Linked DNA regions of Homo sapiens: regions 2 and 3 are each reported to be linked to region 1. Evidence: microRNA targets listed by miRTarBase, many of them from high-throughput screens and not tested one by one. Region 1 holds a microRNA gene; each other region holds the end of a gene's coding sequence.
What was found. Region 1 holds the annotated microRNA hsa-miR-141-5p (CAUCUUCCAGUACAGUGUUGGA, at 2,349-2,370, shown strand). A microRNA usually pairs through its seed, bases 2 to 8, with sites in the 3' UTR of a target mRNA and lowers its output. Matches are read on the target gene's strand: a 7mer-m8 pairs with bases 2 to 8, a 7mer-A1 pairs with bases 2 to 7 and ends in A, and an 8mer does both.

Region 2: the mRNA of TRPC4AP is a reported target of hsa-miR-141-5p. Seed matches in the 3' UTR shown: 8mer at 3,842-3,849.
Region 3: the mRNA of KRABD3 is a reported target of hsa-miR-141-5p. The part of its 3' UTR that is shown has no 7-base or 8-base seed match.

Annotation. Positions count from the first base shown.
Region 1 is chr12:6,961,765-6,967,577 of GRCh38, forward strand. It overlaps MIR141 (microRNA 141), which reads left to right and starts at 2,333; the gene lies at 2,333-2,427. PHB2 (prohibitin 2) reads right to left here. Exons shown (of 10, transcript NM_001144831.2): 7 at 5,407-5,484; 8 at 4,660-4,736; 9 at 4,147-4,152; 10 at 3,563-3,948. The coding sequence ends at 3,921. MIR200CHG (MIR200C and MIR141 host gene) reads left to right here and starts at 1,481. Exons shown (of 2, transcript NR_135032.1): 1 at 1,481-1,584; 2 at 2,437-2,683. MIR200C (microRNA 200c) reads left to right here and starts at 1,935; the gene lies at 1,935-2,002. It also overlaps LOC105369634 and SCARNA12. RefSeq lists enhancers at 1-593, 1-334, 143-352, 594-1,395, 3,178-3,227 and 1 more.
Region 2 is chr20:34,998,953-35,003,358 of GRCh38, forward strand. TRPC4AP (transient receptor potential cation channel subfamily C member 4 associated protein) reads right to left here. Exons shown (of 19, transcript NM_015638.3): 19 at 3,452-4,331. The coding sequence ends at 4,194. It overlaps MYH7B (myosin heavy chain 7B), which reads left to right. Exons shown (of 45, transcript NM_020884.7): 36 at 104-453; 37 at 619-743; 38 at 839-954; 39 at 1,341-1,737; 40 at 1,816-1,941; 41 at 2,036-2,206; 42 at 2,293-2,397; 43 at 2,479-2,574; 44 at 2,996-3,133; 45 at 3,225-3,485. The coding sequence ends at 3,236. Among named protein-coding and RNA genes, the nearest start is that of MIR499B, 11 kb to the left of the region's middle. RefSeq lists an enhancer at 1-309.
Region 3 is chr7:149,733,818-149,738,223 of GRCh38, reverse strand. KRABD3 (KRAB domain containing 3) reads right to left here. Exons shown (of 17, transcript NM_001290187.2): 17 at 3,649-4,406. The coding sequence ends at 4,177. Among named protein-coding and RNA genes, the nearest start is that of KRABD3, 21 kb to the right of the region's middle. RefSeq lists an enhancer at 2,247-3,163.

The DNA.
Region 1 (5,813 bases):
TCTGACCCCAGAGCCCACACTCCTTACCCTGGAGTTGCAGCTGGGGCCACCCTCAGGGGGGCCCTGATCACACTCCCCTGATGCTGAGTTCCAGATCTGAACTAAGAAGAGTAGTTAACAGCCGGAAGCGCAGACCTGAGGCCAGCCCGGCTGCGTCCCCTCTGGCGGGAACAGGGACAGGCTCCTCAGAGCACCCGGGCACGCCCAGCTCCTCCCCTCATCCAGGCCGCTGCTGCCCTTATCCTCTTGGGCAGAGTTTGAAGAGCTGGCTGACGTGAAGAGTGCTTTGTTTTTTGTCCCCTCTTCCTTCCCCCATGTCAGGAGTGGGGTTTCTTCTTTATTTGAAACACTGGTGTCCTGGGGAGTAAAGCCGGTGGGAGTCATCCCTCAGGAAGTGCTGGCGCCCACTCCTGGAAAGGCTGAGACAGCACAGGTCCCAAAGCCCAGAGGCTGGGCGTGCATTACTCAGCAAATCCTTACAGAGCCCCCGGCGTCACAGGCATTCACAGTCCCCCGACCTCCTGGAACTTAGGAGGCTGGTCAGGGAGACAGATTCACAAACCGATCACAAGCATCAAATAATTGCAGGCGGGTATTAAGAAGGAAGCAAACAAAGCCTGGGAGAGAGAACAGCGAGGGATTGAGCAACCCAATAGCTCCCTGGGGCTGTGGCCCTCCAGGGCACGGGTGGGGCAATCACCTGTCGGGCCCAGGTCCCCTCTCCCAGCAACGCCCTTTCTATACAAGCCGCAGCTGCACAAAGGCAAGTCCCACCTCCTCTAACCGCCCTTGGGCTACCTGCCCTTGGGGTGGGACTTGGACTCCACTGAGGGCTGTGCTGTGAGGTGGGTCCGGGAGCAGCTCGGTCCGGAGAGTGGAGCGCGATCGTTCCCTCTGCAGGCCTCAATCGAGGGGCAAGGCTGATGCTCCGGGCCAGCTGGGGTCTCTGGGTAGCGGTGGGTAACTTCACACTAGCGACACCTTGCTGGGACCCGCCTGCCCTTCACAGGCCTGGCGGGGCCTTCTCCCTCCCCTTTCCCTCAGGGGATCCCAGCACAGGCTGGGCACTGCGGGGCGGCACAGCCCAACTCCTGCCCAGCTGACCCCTCGCTGACCTCAGGGATCTCTCTGGCCTGCAGCTCCGCTGTGGGCAGGGTCTGAGGCCACAGAGGAATGGGCTAGTCCTGGGGGCAGCATCTGCTGTGGGGAGGGGACCCAAGGACAGCCCCCGCTTTTTGTACCTCTGGAGACAGGGGTGAGACTAGGCAGGTTGGAGAAAAGAGGCCCCTGGGAGAGGGTGGGAGGCCTAGAGGAGTGGCCAAGCCTTAGAGGAGGTGCCCGTGGCTGGCGCTGGGAGGGAAGGGGTTAAGGCAGTGGGGGGGCAGCCTATGGCAGGAGGACACACCTGTGCGCAGGGTGGCAGGCGGGGCCCAGGTAAGGAGCCTGCGCTGGCTGCCCGGCAGGCGGAGAAGGAAGGAGGAAGAGCGGAGGCCAGGGCGGGCTCTAGGCCGTGGAATCTGGGGCCTTAAAGCCCCTTCGTCTCCCCAGCACCCACTCTCTGGGGGCAGGTGGGCCCGGTGACAGGTAAAGGCCACCAGGGGAGAGGTCCTGGGCTGAGCTTGGGACTGCAGAGGGGGGATGAGGGTGGGTAAATCGGTGTGTGTCGCGGGTCGGGAAAGGCTGCCGGGGGTAGGGGAAGGTGGCTCAGAGGCGGCGGGCCGACGGTCGAGGGGCTTCGGAGGGCCTGCTTGGACTGCAACCTGGGCCTCGTGATCAGCGACCCAGGGTGTGGCTGGTGGCGGGCAGCAGGGCTCACCAGGAAGTGTCCCCAGGGACTCGGGTGGTGGGGGGATGGGAGCCAGGGATCTGCAGCTTTTCCGCAGGGATCCTGGGCCTGAAGCTGCCTGACCCAAGGTGGGCGGGCTGGGCGGGGGCCCTCGTCTTACCCAGCAGTGTTTGGGTGCGGTTGGGAGTCTCTAATACTGCCGGGTAATGATGGAGGCCCCTGTCCCTGTGTCAGCAACATCCATCGCCTCAGGTCCCCAGCCCTTAGCTGGCTGCAGCCCCCTCCCCACTTCCCACGCACCCCGGAAGCCCCTCGTCTTGAGCTGAGAGCGTTGCACAAGGGGTGGTTCTTGTTGGCTGGCTGCCACTAAGGGACACAATGGGCCCCAGCCCCTCCTCCCACCCAGTGCGATTTGTCACCTGGTGGATCCAGAACCCACAGTCGACCTTGAGCTTGGGGTTGGCTCGCCCCCTCTCAAGAGACCTCACCTGGCCTGTGGCCAGGGTCCCCTGTAGCAACTGGTGAGCGCGCACCGTAGTTCTCTGTCGGCCGGCCCTGGGTCCATCTTCCAGTACAGTGTTGGATGGTCTAATTGTGAAGCTCCTAACACTGTCTGGTAAAGATGGCTCCCGGGTGGGTTCTCTCGGCAGTAACCTTCAGGGAGCCCTGAAGACCATGGAGGACTACTGACCAACAACCTCTGACCTTCACCCCTCTGGATGGGGGACGAATCACTAGGCAAAGGGGAACAATGGGAAGGAGACAAAATGGCTGCCTTTACAGCTGCAGCAAGATGTGGAAACACTGGTTCCCTAGGCACCTCCATTGTCTTCCCGCCTTGGGAGCATGAAATAAATAAAGTGTGAAGGGGAACATGAGGAAGACTGATCCAAGTCACTTGACCTGTCTTTTGTCTAGTTGTTTATCTCATCTTAGCCTCCCAGCAACTCAGGATTGGGGCTGCGACGTCTGCTTTGTCTTTCATGATACTCAACCCCAAGCAGAGAAAAATATCTTAAAAATCGAAGCAGATTAACCCAGTCCCTCTGTTCAGATCCACCTGCTGCCCTATCTGCATTTGGCAGTTCCTGGACATACTTTGCACCTATGTTTTGTCTGAGTTCCACATCTTCCTTGTCTCCCCGCAGGGATGGGAAATGGGCAGTAGTGGGAGATTCAGGTATAAACGGTGGCTCTGTTTCTCTGGTGCCTGAGATTCGGGAAGGCCTGTCTTGGGAAGATAAGTGTCAGCTTATCTGTGGACTGAACAGACAGGCACCTGTTCTGTTGGCCCCGGAACTGCGGGCATGAAAAGCCCACCTCCCCAGGGGAGGCCTGTTAGCTAGCAGCTCCTCACGCCTGGTGACTGAGAAATGGAGTCTGGGGGGCCTACAGCAGGCCACGCGATCCACTGGGCTTCTGGGCACAGAAGTGCCTCAACAGGCACAGGCAGGCTCCCCACAGCCACAAGGAACCCTGCTGCCAAGGAAGCAGCTCCTGTTGGGGTCATCAGATTTTTAATCTGGCTCAGCAAAGCCATGGCTGTCCAGCCTTAAAAAAATGGGTGATGTGGGAGAAATGGAGGGTGTGTGAAGAGCACAGCTGGGCCTCGAGAACTCAGGGCCAGCCTTCCCAGCTTGGGTCCTGTTTCGGAGCCCAGGCCTTGCTTCCCCTTAGCCGCCCCAGCCAGATTCTTTTGCGCCCCCTGCTGGCACACACAAAGACAGACCCAGGAGCGCACATGTGAACGTGCGCATGCTTGCTGCCAGTTACCCAGTTCATGAACACGTGAAGCCTTGACTTCAGGTTAAGTAATAAAAATTTATTGAGAATTCCTGGGTTGGTGTTTATCTCCTCCCAGCCTTGAGGGAGGGAACAACACTGTAGGAAATCACTGAGAAATCACGCACTGTCCCCAACAGCCCCAGTTAACACAGGGAGGAGGAAAGTAATTCCCCAGAAAAGGGGCTAGTCTTCAGTCTTCCTTAATCCAAGAGGGGTTCAGGGAACCGGTGTGGGGGACCATCGCATGATACTGGGGCGGGGTAGGGCTGTGCTGGACCCCTGGCTGGCTCCTCAAAAACTGGAGAAGCAGATCCACTTCCTCTGGGGGTGGAGTTCTTGGTGACTAGGCTCATTTCTTACCCTTGATGAGGCTGTCACTGTAGGAAAAAAAAGATAGATAATGACATTATTAGGGGACATAAATGTGAGAGGCAGGACACTCTAGGCCATTCCCTCTACGACCCTCCTACCCTGATTGAGGGTTTGTCTTCGGGGAGGTGGGAAAGGGGGTAGGGTAGGAGGCGGGTACTGGAGAAGGTGGCCTGCAGGACCCCACAGAAGCAACAACAGCTTACCTTCCCCTGTGGTGCCAGATCGCCAGATGAACAAGAAACAGAGAAGAGAAATGCACATGTTAATTGACAGCTTCAGGCCCCACTCAGCTTTGAACCCTCCTTTGCTCCCAAGAGAAAAGATAAACAGGGTTGACAGCCAGGAATCTCAGGCTCATGAAAGGAGGAGGCATGTTCTCATGGCCACTGCTATTTCTCATCTCCTTTCCTAACATCCCTCCATTCACCAGAGGAGTTTGAGGGCTCTTGAGTAAGAAAACTGAGTATCATCTTTCATCACTTTTTGGTTAGATGAAAACTTTATAATTAAAGTGCTTTTTATGTGAATAATCCTATTTGATCTCATAAAATCAATCCTATGAGATGCAAGATAGAAACTGTCAACCACCCCCTTTTCTAATTTTGGTTCAATGTCTCTGAGCCATATGAATAGCTGTAGCAGGCTCCAGAGCCCAAACAACCAGACTCAGGTCCCACGTTCTTGGTGATACCCCACAGTGTGGCCACATCTCTCACCTGGTGAAACTTTCATCCTGTAGGTTCAGCACAAGGTTGTCAGCTGTGAGATAGATACGATTCTGTGATGTGGCGATCTACAGGGCAGGAAATAAGACAGATGCTTGCATTAAGCAAAGACCTCAATTCCGACCCCTGCAATTCAGCAGCTACTTAACATGGAACACATGCAGATTAGGGCAGGGGTGCAGCAATGAGTAACACATGGTTTCTGCTCGCACTTAGGGATCCAGAGCGCTGAGCAGCAGCTATGATTAGAACAAAAGGTCAGGGAACCCAGAGGAATCATTCTTGACAGGAGGAGTATCGGAGAAGCCAATTTTTTATTTATTTATTTTTGAGACGGAGTCTTGCTCTGTTGCTCAGGCTGGAGTGCAGTGGCATGATCTCAGCTCACTGCAACTTCCGCCTCCTGGGTTCAAGTGATTCTCCTGCCTCAGCCTCCTGCGTAGCTGGGAATATAGCTAAACGCCACCACAGCGGGCTCATTATCTTTTGTATTTTTAGTAGAGATGGGGTTTCACCATGTTGGCCAGGCTGGTCTCGAACTCCTGACCTCAGGTGATCCACCCACCTTGGCCTCCCAAAGTGCGGGGATTACATGCGTGAGCCACCGCGCCGGCCAGAGAAGCCAATCTGAGTAGAAACCGGAACAAGCAAGGTTCGAATTCCCTCACCTCAATGTGCCTTAACTGAAAGCACTTTCTCAAGGCAGCCCCATCAGAGACGCTGGGCTGACACACTCACCGTCTTGGAGATATTCTGGGCTGCTCGAATCTTGCGAAGTTTGATGTAGCCAGGGTTCTTGCTCAGTGCTTCTCCAAGGTGAGGAGGGTTAAGGTACACGCAAGGGCAGGTCTCAATCCCTGGCCCTGTCCTTACCACACTCCCTTGCTCCAGTCCTCCTCTGGGCTGTCAGATCCAAGGTTGCGCTCAGGTGGCTTGTGCCCAGCCCTACCGTGGACCCCACCTGTGGGCCTCCCTGCAGGCTGCTGCCAGGAACTAGGGGCAGCACCAGAAATGAAGGCAAGGCCACCAATGCTATTGATCTGGCCTTACAGTGGGGAGTCATGGCTCAGGTACTACCACTAAGATTTCAGATCTCATCTGTAGTCCCCACCCCCAACAAGGAGCCAAGGGCCAGAGAGCACGGA
Region 2 (4,406 bases), not on the chromosome of region 1:
CTTTATGCCTGTGCCTGAGCCCCGCTGAGGGTGGGTGAAGGGAGCTGCTGGGGCTGTTCTCCCTCCTTCCATGGTCCACACCTTGTCTGGTTCCATGGCCTAGAAAAAAGCTGGCACTGCGGCTGCAGGAGGCAGAGGAGGGCGTGGAGGCTGCCAACGCCAAGTGCTCATCGTTGGAGAAGGCCAAGCTGCGGCTACAGACAGAGTCAGAGGATGTAACCCTGGAGCTGGAGCGGGCGACCTCAGCAGCTGCTGCGCTGGACAAGAAGCAGCGGCACTTGGAACGGGCACTGGAGGAACGGCGGCGGCAGGAGGAGGAGATGCAGCGGGAGCTGGAGGCGGCACAGAGGGAGTCCCGTGGCCTGGGCACCGAGCTCTTCCGGCTGCGGCACGGCCACGAGGAGGCACTTGAAGCCCTGGAGACGCTCAAGCGGGAGAACAAGAACCTGCAGGGTAGGACCTGCCACACGCCAGGGCCAGGGTGCTGCCCTGGGGTCGGAGCAACTTTGAGTTATGGGGGTGCCCTGGTGGGGCCACCCTGGAATCAGGGGTGAGTGGAGTGACCTGGGTGGGAGTACAAGCCATGGGGGTGGCCTCTCAGCACCCTGTCCACTGCAGAGGAGATCAGCGACCTCACAGACCAGGTGAGTCTCAGTGGGAAGAGCATCCAGGAACTGGAGAAAACCAAGAAGGCGCTGGAAGGCGAGAAGAGTGAGATCCAGGCTGCACTGGAGGAGGCAGAGGTCAGGGGCTGGCTGCAGGGGTGGGTGGACACTGACCTGCTGCTCCACTGGCCATCCCCCCCCCCCACCCTACCCTGCCTGCTCTGTATCCACAGGGGGCCCTGGAGCTGGAGGAGACCAAGACGCTGCGGATCCAGCTGGAGCTCTCCCAGGTCAAAGCAGAAGTGGACCGGAAGCTGGCAGAGAAAGACGAGGAGTGCGCTAACCTGAGGTGTGTCCATCCTTCTCCCGTCCCCACCTCCCGAGAGCAGAAGGGGAGGGAAGCAGTGTGTACTCTGCTCTCTAGTCTGTCCCTCCCATGGGACTTTGAGGTCCGGGTTGCTGTCTCCATTCTAGCTGTGAACCTCGGAGATGCTAAAGGACTTGCCCAAAGTCACACAGTGGGGGTGGAGCCAGTCAGTCCACCTCTGTCTGCCTGGGCCTCACTCTTGTCCATGAACTTGCTCTGATGGGCCACAGGCAGTCACAAGAGACTTTAAATCGGGGAGGGGTGACTCATTTGTTCTCAAAATGGGTTCGTTTCCAACGGTCCTTGGGCATTTGTAAGGACAGGTATGCCCTTACGAGACCCCCTTTCATGCCACCCTCCTCCCATAGGCGCAACCACCAGCGAGCTGTGGAGTCCCTGCAGGCCTCCCTGGATGCAGAGACACGGGCCCGCAATGAGGCGCTGCGGCTCAAGAAGAAGATGGAGGGTGACCTCAACGACCTGGAGCTGCAGCTGGGCCATGCCACCCGTCAGGCCACAGAGGCCCAGGCTGCCACGCGGCTGATGCAGGCACAGCTCAAGGAGGAGCAGGCAGGGCGGGACGAGGAGCAGCGGCTGGCAGCTGAGCTCCACGAGCAGGCGCAGGCTCTGGAGCGCCGGGCCTCGCTGCTGGCTGCGGAGCTGGAGGAGCTGCGGGCTGCCCTGGAGCAGGGCGAGCGCAGCCGGCGACTGGCAGAGCAGGAGCTTTTGGAGGCCACCGAGCGCCTCAACCTTCTGCATTCGCAGGTGGGGACAGGAGTCCCTGGGGACAGAGCAGGTGCAGGCCTGCTGGCTGGCTGGCTCTGAGACTCCTCTTCCCCTCAGAACACAGGCCTCCTAAACCAGAAGAAGAAGCTGGAGGCGGACTTGGCCCAGCTGAGCGGGGAGGTGGAGGAGGCTGCACAGGAGAGGCGGGAGGCTGAGGAGAAGGCCAAAAAGGCCATCACTGATGTGAGGCTGGGCAAGGGCTGTGGGGAGCCTGGGACAGAATTGCAGAGGGACTTCCCTGAGGCTGGGCACCTGACCAGCTCCTCCTCCCCAACAGGCGGCCATGATGGCCGAGGAGCTGAAGAAGGAGCAGGACACAAGTGCACACCTGGAACGGATGAAGAAGACGCTGGAGCAGACGGTGCGCGAGCTCCAGGCCCGCCTTGAGGAGGCAGAACAGGCCGCCCTCCGTGGCGGGAAGAAGCAGGTGCAGAAGCTGGAGGCCAAGGTGTGTGCAGCCCCTCTAGTCCTTGGCGCAGGCAGGGTGGGTGACCCAGGGGTGGGCTTGGCATCAGGCTGTCCCCCTGCCTGCAGGTACGGGAGCTGGAGGCTGAGCTTGATGCAGAGCAGAAGAAGCACGCCGAGGCCCTTAAGGGCGTGCGCAAGCATGAGCGCCGTGTCAAGGAGCTCGCATACCAGGTGGGCGACAGGGTCTCCCTGGGGAGTGGCCCTGGAGCTGGCCCAGCCCAAGCAAGCCCTGAGTCCCCCTTGCCCGCCCAGGCCGAGGAGGACAGGAAGAACCTGGCTCGCATGCAGGACCTGGTGGACAAGCTGCAGAGCAAGGTCAAGAGCTACAAGCGCCAGTTTGAGGAGGCGGTGAGTGCGCTGGGGCCTGGACACCTGGACCGGGCACCCCAGCTCTGCCCCAGGGTCTGTGGCCAGGTGAGGCATCAGCAGCAGCTCCACCCTCCAAGGTCAGTGACCCAGAGGGAAGAGAGAAGCTTCTAACATCTCTGGGGAGATCAGACCTAGCTCCTTCTCATGGAACAGACCCCATGTGCTTTCCCCTGGCCAAGGCTGGGGCTGCCTCTGAGGGGTGGGGCAGGCACAAAAAGGCACATGAAGTTGGTGCGTCCCAACTTCCTTATTCCCGCTGTGGTATTGGTGAGGATGGACAGTGGCAATAGGAACAAAGTTGAGAACCAGGAGGAGCTAGCTCCCTTCTTGGACTGGGGCAGGGACCAGAATAAGCATCTCAGTCACCCAAGCGGAACCAAGGCCCTGTGTGTGCCCCCAGGAGCAGCAGGCCAACACCAACCTGGCCAAGTATCGCAAGGCCCAGCACGAGCTGGATGATGCGGAGGAGCGGGCAGACATGGCGGAAACCCAGGCCAACAAGCTGCGGGCACGGACCCGGGACGCCCTGGGCCCCAAGGTGAGGAGTGGCAGGGGCATTGCTCTCTGTGCAGGGGGACTGTGGGGGCTGACAGGTAGTACTGCTCACTCAGCTATCCCTTTCTCCTCAGCACAAGGAGTGACGGCCTGACCCCCTGGGCTCTAAAGAGGAATGTCTGCTGTTGCACATCTGGCTGAGGCCACCTGCCCCGATCCTGCCATCTCTGCATCGCCCCCTGCTGCCTTCAGCCTTCCCTGGGCCCTGAATAAACACCACAGCCAGTTTCCTTCTCATTCTTTTCTTTGGGGTTCAGGAGGAAAAACACAGTCCTAGGGACAAAAGCCAGGTCCACAGCAGTCATTTTTAAAATAAAGTTATTTAATAGTCTCCATTTAATTGGTTTATTTGCTGTTAATAAATTGGCAACACAAGGAAGGGCCCCATGTCCAGGCTCAGGCAGGAGCGGCTGCCTCAGGCAGAGGCAGGGCAGGCACAGCTGCCCCGTGCCCCAAGGGATGGAGGGAAAGGCCCCTCACTTCTGGGAGAACCCCCTTGGATGAACACAGCGGCCAATGAGCAAACAGAACCAGAGGAGCTACAGGAAAATGAGGCAGAGGGGCAGGCTTGGGGGAAGGCAGCATTCTCTGGTACCCACCACCCCTGCCCAGGGCTCAGAAGCCTTTGCCTGGGTCCAAAGGCCAGGGACAAGGGAGGCTTGGCTCACAGATGGGGGGTGGGGGTCACCCATATCTTCCTCCCCACTCTGGGACTGACTGACAGCCAAGAAACCGGCAGGAGCTCACACAGAGCTAATGCTAAATGTCCTCTTACCTCTGGGTGGCCCTGGGCCCCAGGGTTCTGAAGGAAAGGTGGGCATGGTACCCTGTCCTCATTATGGGGACTGAGGCTCTCCATGACCTAGGGCCCTCAGACCCAGGGGGACCAAGGGCTTCTAGGACTTCCCTCCCACCAAGCCTGTACCCAAAGACCTGGGGCAGGCAGAGAGCAGCAGGGAGGAACGGGAACAGGGCAGGGCGTGTGGCATCGTACCCACGCTCACCCACACTGGCCCAGCAGCCTCCCGAGGCCTGGCCCAAGGTCACTCCTCAGTGAAGTCCCTGTCTATGTCCATGTAGGGCTCCTCAATGTAGCTAACGAGAGCAGAGGGTGACTGCCGGTCCGGGTTCAACAGGATGGACACTGTCTCCTTCCAGTATGAGAAGCTGATGCAGGAGCTCTGGGCAAAGAGGGAGGGGCTGGGGGGCGCCTGGAGGACCCAGGTCAAGCCCAGCACCGGGACACCCCTCTGAGA
Region 3 (4,406 bases), not on the chromosome of region 1:
ATATATATATATTTTTTTTTTTTTTTTTTTTAAGTAGAGATGGGGTTTTACCATGTTGCCCGGGCTAGTCTCGAACTCCTGGACTCAAGTGATCTGCCTGCCTCAGCCTCCCAAAGTTTTGGGACAACAGCCGTGAGCCACCACACCTGGCCTGTGGTACTTCCTTCATGGTGGGAAACATTTTTAATTTCCATTATGATTTCTTCATTGACACATGGGTTATTTTAGCAGCATAATTCTCATTTTTGAATATATAAGAATTTCTGGTTATTATTTAATTCTAGCTTAAAAGGTAAAAGTATTGTCAGAGAACATACCCTATATAATTTCAATATTTTAAATTTATTTACACTTACTGTAGGGCTTAATATATGGTCAATTTTTGTAAATGTCCTGTGTATGCTTGAAGAGAATGTATATTAAGCAGTCCCATGGCACACAGTTTTTGTTTGCTTGTTTGAGATGGAGTTTCACTCTTTACACAGGCTGCAGTGCAGTTGCATGATCTCAGCTCACTGCAACCTCTGCCTCCCGGGTTCAAGCGATTCTCGTGTCTCAGCCTCCCAAGTAGCTGGGATTACAGGTGCATGCTACCATGCCCAGCTAATTTTTGTATTTTTTGTAGAGACAGAGTTTCACTGTGTTGGCCAGGCTGGTCTGGAACTCCTGGCCTCAAGTGATCCATCCGCCTCGGCCTCCCAAAGTGCTGGGATTACATGTGTGAGCCACCGCACCCGGCCCCATGGTGTACTGTCCTATACGGGCCTCAATCAGGCCAATTTTGTTAAGGAGTTTGTTCGAATCTTCTACATCCCTCCCAATTTGTTCCATCATTTTCAGAGAAAGATATGCTAAAACCTCCCAAATATGATTGTGAATTTGGGTGTTTCTCCTTTTAGTTCTTTACATTTTGAGGCCAGCAGAGGAAAAAATGGATTTTTTTTTTAACCCACAACAGTGTTAATACAAAATAAGGCAGGGAAGAGAAGCCCCCTCGGAAGAGGTGGGACAAACAAAAAGCACAAAGTAAGAAAGTCTGTTAAAGCCTCAATAAATCAGTCAGTCAATTACATTTAAATGGATTAAGGGCTCCCAGTTGACGAGCAAAATCTGTCAAGATGGTTTATGAGATAAAATCCATAGGTTGTGCATAGGAGCCACATCCAAAACACAAACCCGCACAAAGGTTAACAGCATGCCTGCTGCTCTTGACCAAGCACCTTCAGCGGGGAGCAGTGAATCGTGGTTCTTGCACCCCGCAGGCCAGCCTCCCTTCCATCAGGACCCCTGGGGGTGGCCAGAAAATAATAGGGGCACGAGGAGCCCATTCATTCATATTTTGAAGCGGAACCTTCACATGTTCCTGCCTGCTGGGGGACTCTGGCTGGCAGACTGGGAAGGTCGCACTCAGATCAGCCAGGACCCGTTCGGCTCACCCAGGATGGAATGAGCAGCCTGGAGCCTTCTCTGCCCCCAATTCCAAACCCTGGAGCTCCTTTGAGTTCAAAAAGGTCCTTCAGTTTCTCCCATCAAAGGGACCACATTTCCTCTTCCAAGCCACACTGCACAGTTCTTAAAGGAGATGGGCACAGTGCCAAAGACCTAAACTGCATCTAGATTTTCCACTAGATCAATTCTAGAAGGCGTTTCAGTGACTGTGGACAGGTCCTGGAGACCTAGACCTAGGGAACTGCTTCTGCAGGAGGAACGCAGCTGCAGACCATGGAACTTCTTACCACTTATTACTTAGAATCCACATTCTTAAAACAACTTTAAACTTATTATATGGTCCAACTGGGTCTGGACCACCTAGACCAGGCTCAGTCCTGAATACCCTGGTCTGTCCCAGCAGGCAAAGGCTGGGAGGGGGCATCTGTGCCCAGGGTGAGGATGCGCCGAGTGCTGGCGGCACTGGTGAGGGCTCGAGCTCTCTTCCTAGCTCTGCTGGTTGAAGGCTGCCTAACTGTGACAGTCACTTACAGCCACCATGCTCATTTGTTCAGTCGTGCCTGTCAACTAGGGTTTGCGTGGTGGCTGTTTCGGAAGCCAGCAAAGCAAAACCACCTTAATGTGCCACACAGAAGTGTAAGGTGACCCCCCCTCCCATTGAGTCGACAGCCCAGTGACCCCTGCTTAGAAGGGAAAGGAGAATGGGAGGACAGGCAGGCACGATGGGACTGCACCAGCTGCAGCAGGGGTGGGCAAGAGTCCTCTCCTCACAGCCAGAGTCAGGGCAGGGGCAGTTTCGCTTCTCAACCCCCCTCTGAAACTGTGTCCCACCCCTTGCCGTGGCTCTGAAACGTGCCCGGCACTGCTCCCTGCTTATTAGAAGGAGAGCTCCTCAGGCAGGAGCAACCTAGAAACTTTCCCTTCCTGATTCTGTGCAAGCACGGCTGTGAGCGAACAGCCTCCGTATTTCAACAAACATCCTACTTGTATGGTCTTAGGATCTGTTTCCAGACAGTCACCTCGGGGCTCACTCTAGTCCTGAAAGCATCTTCCCATCCCTTTGTGATGTTCAGTCTGTTGCGGGCATTCCCCTCTGACAGGTGTCCTTGCCCTGCTGCTTCTACAGGGTGGCAAAGAGCAAGGGCTTCAGCTCCCAAGCTCAGCTGCAGGGCACTTAGGCCCCGAGTGTGTCCCCAGTGACCCTGACTTGAGGGACACACTGGGCGCTGCAGCCACAAGGCACTGCTCCTGTAGTCATGGTGGGCAGCCAGCATTGCCCCAGGCCACAGTGCTGGTGTCCCAGGCTCCTCAGGGACCTGAGGACAGGGCCAAGTGTGCCAGTCCACACCAGGCTGGCCCTGCCAGTCCACACCAGGCTGGCCCTGCCAGTCAACAGGTGCACATACAGGTCCTGAAACCACCTCAGGTCAAATAAGGGATTTGGGGGCACACAGGTTGCATTCTGCCTCTTGGGAAGATGATGCAAGGGAATGACAGGCAGGCTGGTTCCAACGCATTGCCAAGCGCCAGCTGAGCGGGCTGGGAGCAGGCACATTCCGGTAACCAGGACAGAAGTGGGCTAGTGATACCTGGTCATGTCTTTTCCCAAGACAAAACCAGGAAGACTGGCCCAGCCCGTTTGGTGTGTTACAGGCTGAACTGTGCCCCTCCCCAAATGTGTATGGTGAAGGCCTAACCTCCAGTACCTCCAAATGTGACCTCACTTGGAGAGGGGGTGTTTAGAGAGGTAATCAGGTTAAAATGAAGTCATTAGGGTGGGTCATAACCCCATACAACTGCTGCCCTGATATGAAGGGGAAATCTGGAGACAGCTGTGTAGAAAACACCATCTGAACAGGAAGACAGCCATCTACAGGTCAAGGGGAGAGGTCCGGGACCGATCCTCCCTCCCAGCCCAAAGCAGGAACTGAACCTGACACCTGGATTGTAGACTTCTGGCCTCCAGGACAGAGACAATATGTGCTGCTGTTGAAGCTGCCCAGGCAGGGTTCCTCTGTGAGGCAGCCCCAGGGGACTCAGAGTGTGCCCCAGGAGTCCTGTGGGAATTGCCCCACCCTTCCTGGCACACTCCTGAATGTTCTCGAGGATGTCTGGGAGACGAGGCAGCGTGCTGGTGGCACAACCAGCCCCGCCCCAGCGTGGGCCCACATGGACCTCCCTTCTATAGGAGTCAGGGCCTTCCTTAGCAACTCACTTCTTTAATTTCAGAATCCACAGAGGTAAGTCCAGCTTAGACCAGGGGGCTGAGTTCTCTCAAATGAAATCTGTGCCAATATTTACTCCAGGAAGGCAAGAGCCCAGCCCTTCAAGGCTCCTGAGATCAGGAACGGCTGGTGGTTAGGAGGCGCTCTCCTGGCCGCTCTAGCTGTGTGGGGCACCCCCTGCATATGTGGGGCACACGTGGCCTATGCACACCACCCACCTACAAGCTTGGGCGGCTCCAGTGGGAAAGACAGGAGAGGGAAGCAACATTTGATTGAATCTGAGCCAAGAGGGCCAGAGGCTGAGGAAGGCACCCCCACAGCAGCCTCCTGAGCAAACAGCACCTGGGGGCTCTACCCAGTTGGGACAAAGGGCGAGGCTCCCAGCAACAGTAAGGGAGATGGCGTCCTCTGGGAGAGGGTGGCCTGGGGTGGGGTGACAGGGCTTCCACGCCACCACTGCACCCTCGGCAAGAACGAGCAGATGTGGAGAAGAGGAATGCCATCAATGCGCCCCCCATCTCGGGTCCCTGTGCTCCCCACCCCACAGTTCTTCCTGGAGGGCCCTCTGCACTCCTCCCAGCAGGCTGCTCGGCTCCTTGGGCCGCTCTGGGATCCCGTCTGGTGCCACTCCTGAGGTCGGCACGTCTGCATCTGCACTGGCTGCAGGAGGAGAGGCTCCCTGCAGGGGTAAGGCAGCAGGCACTAAAGGGGGAAGGGGGCTCTGGTGGCCCC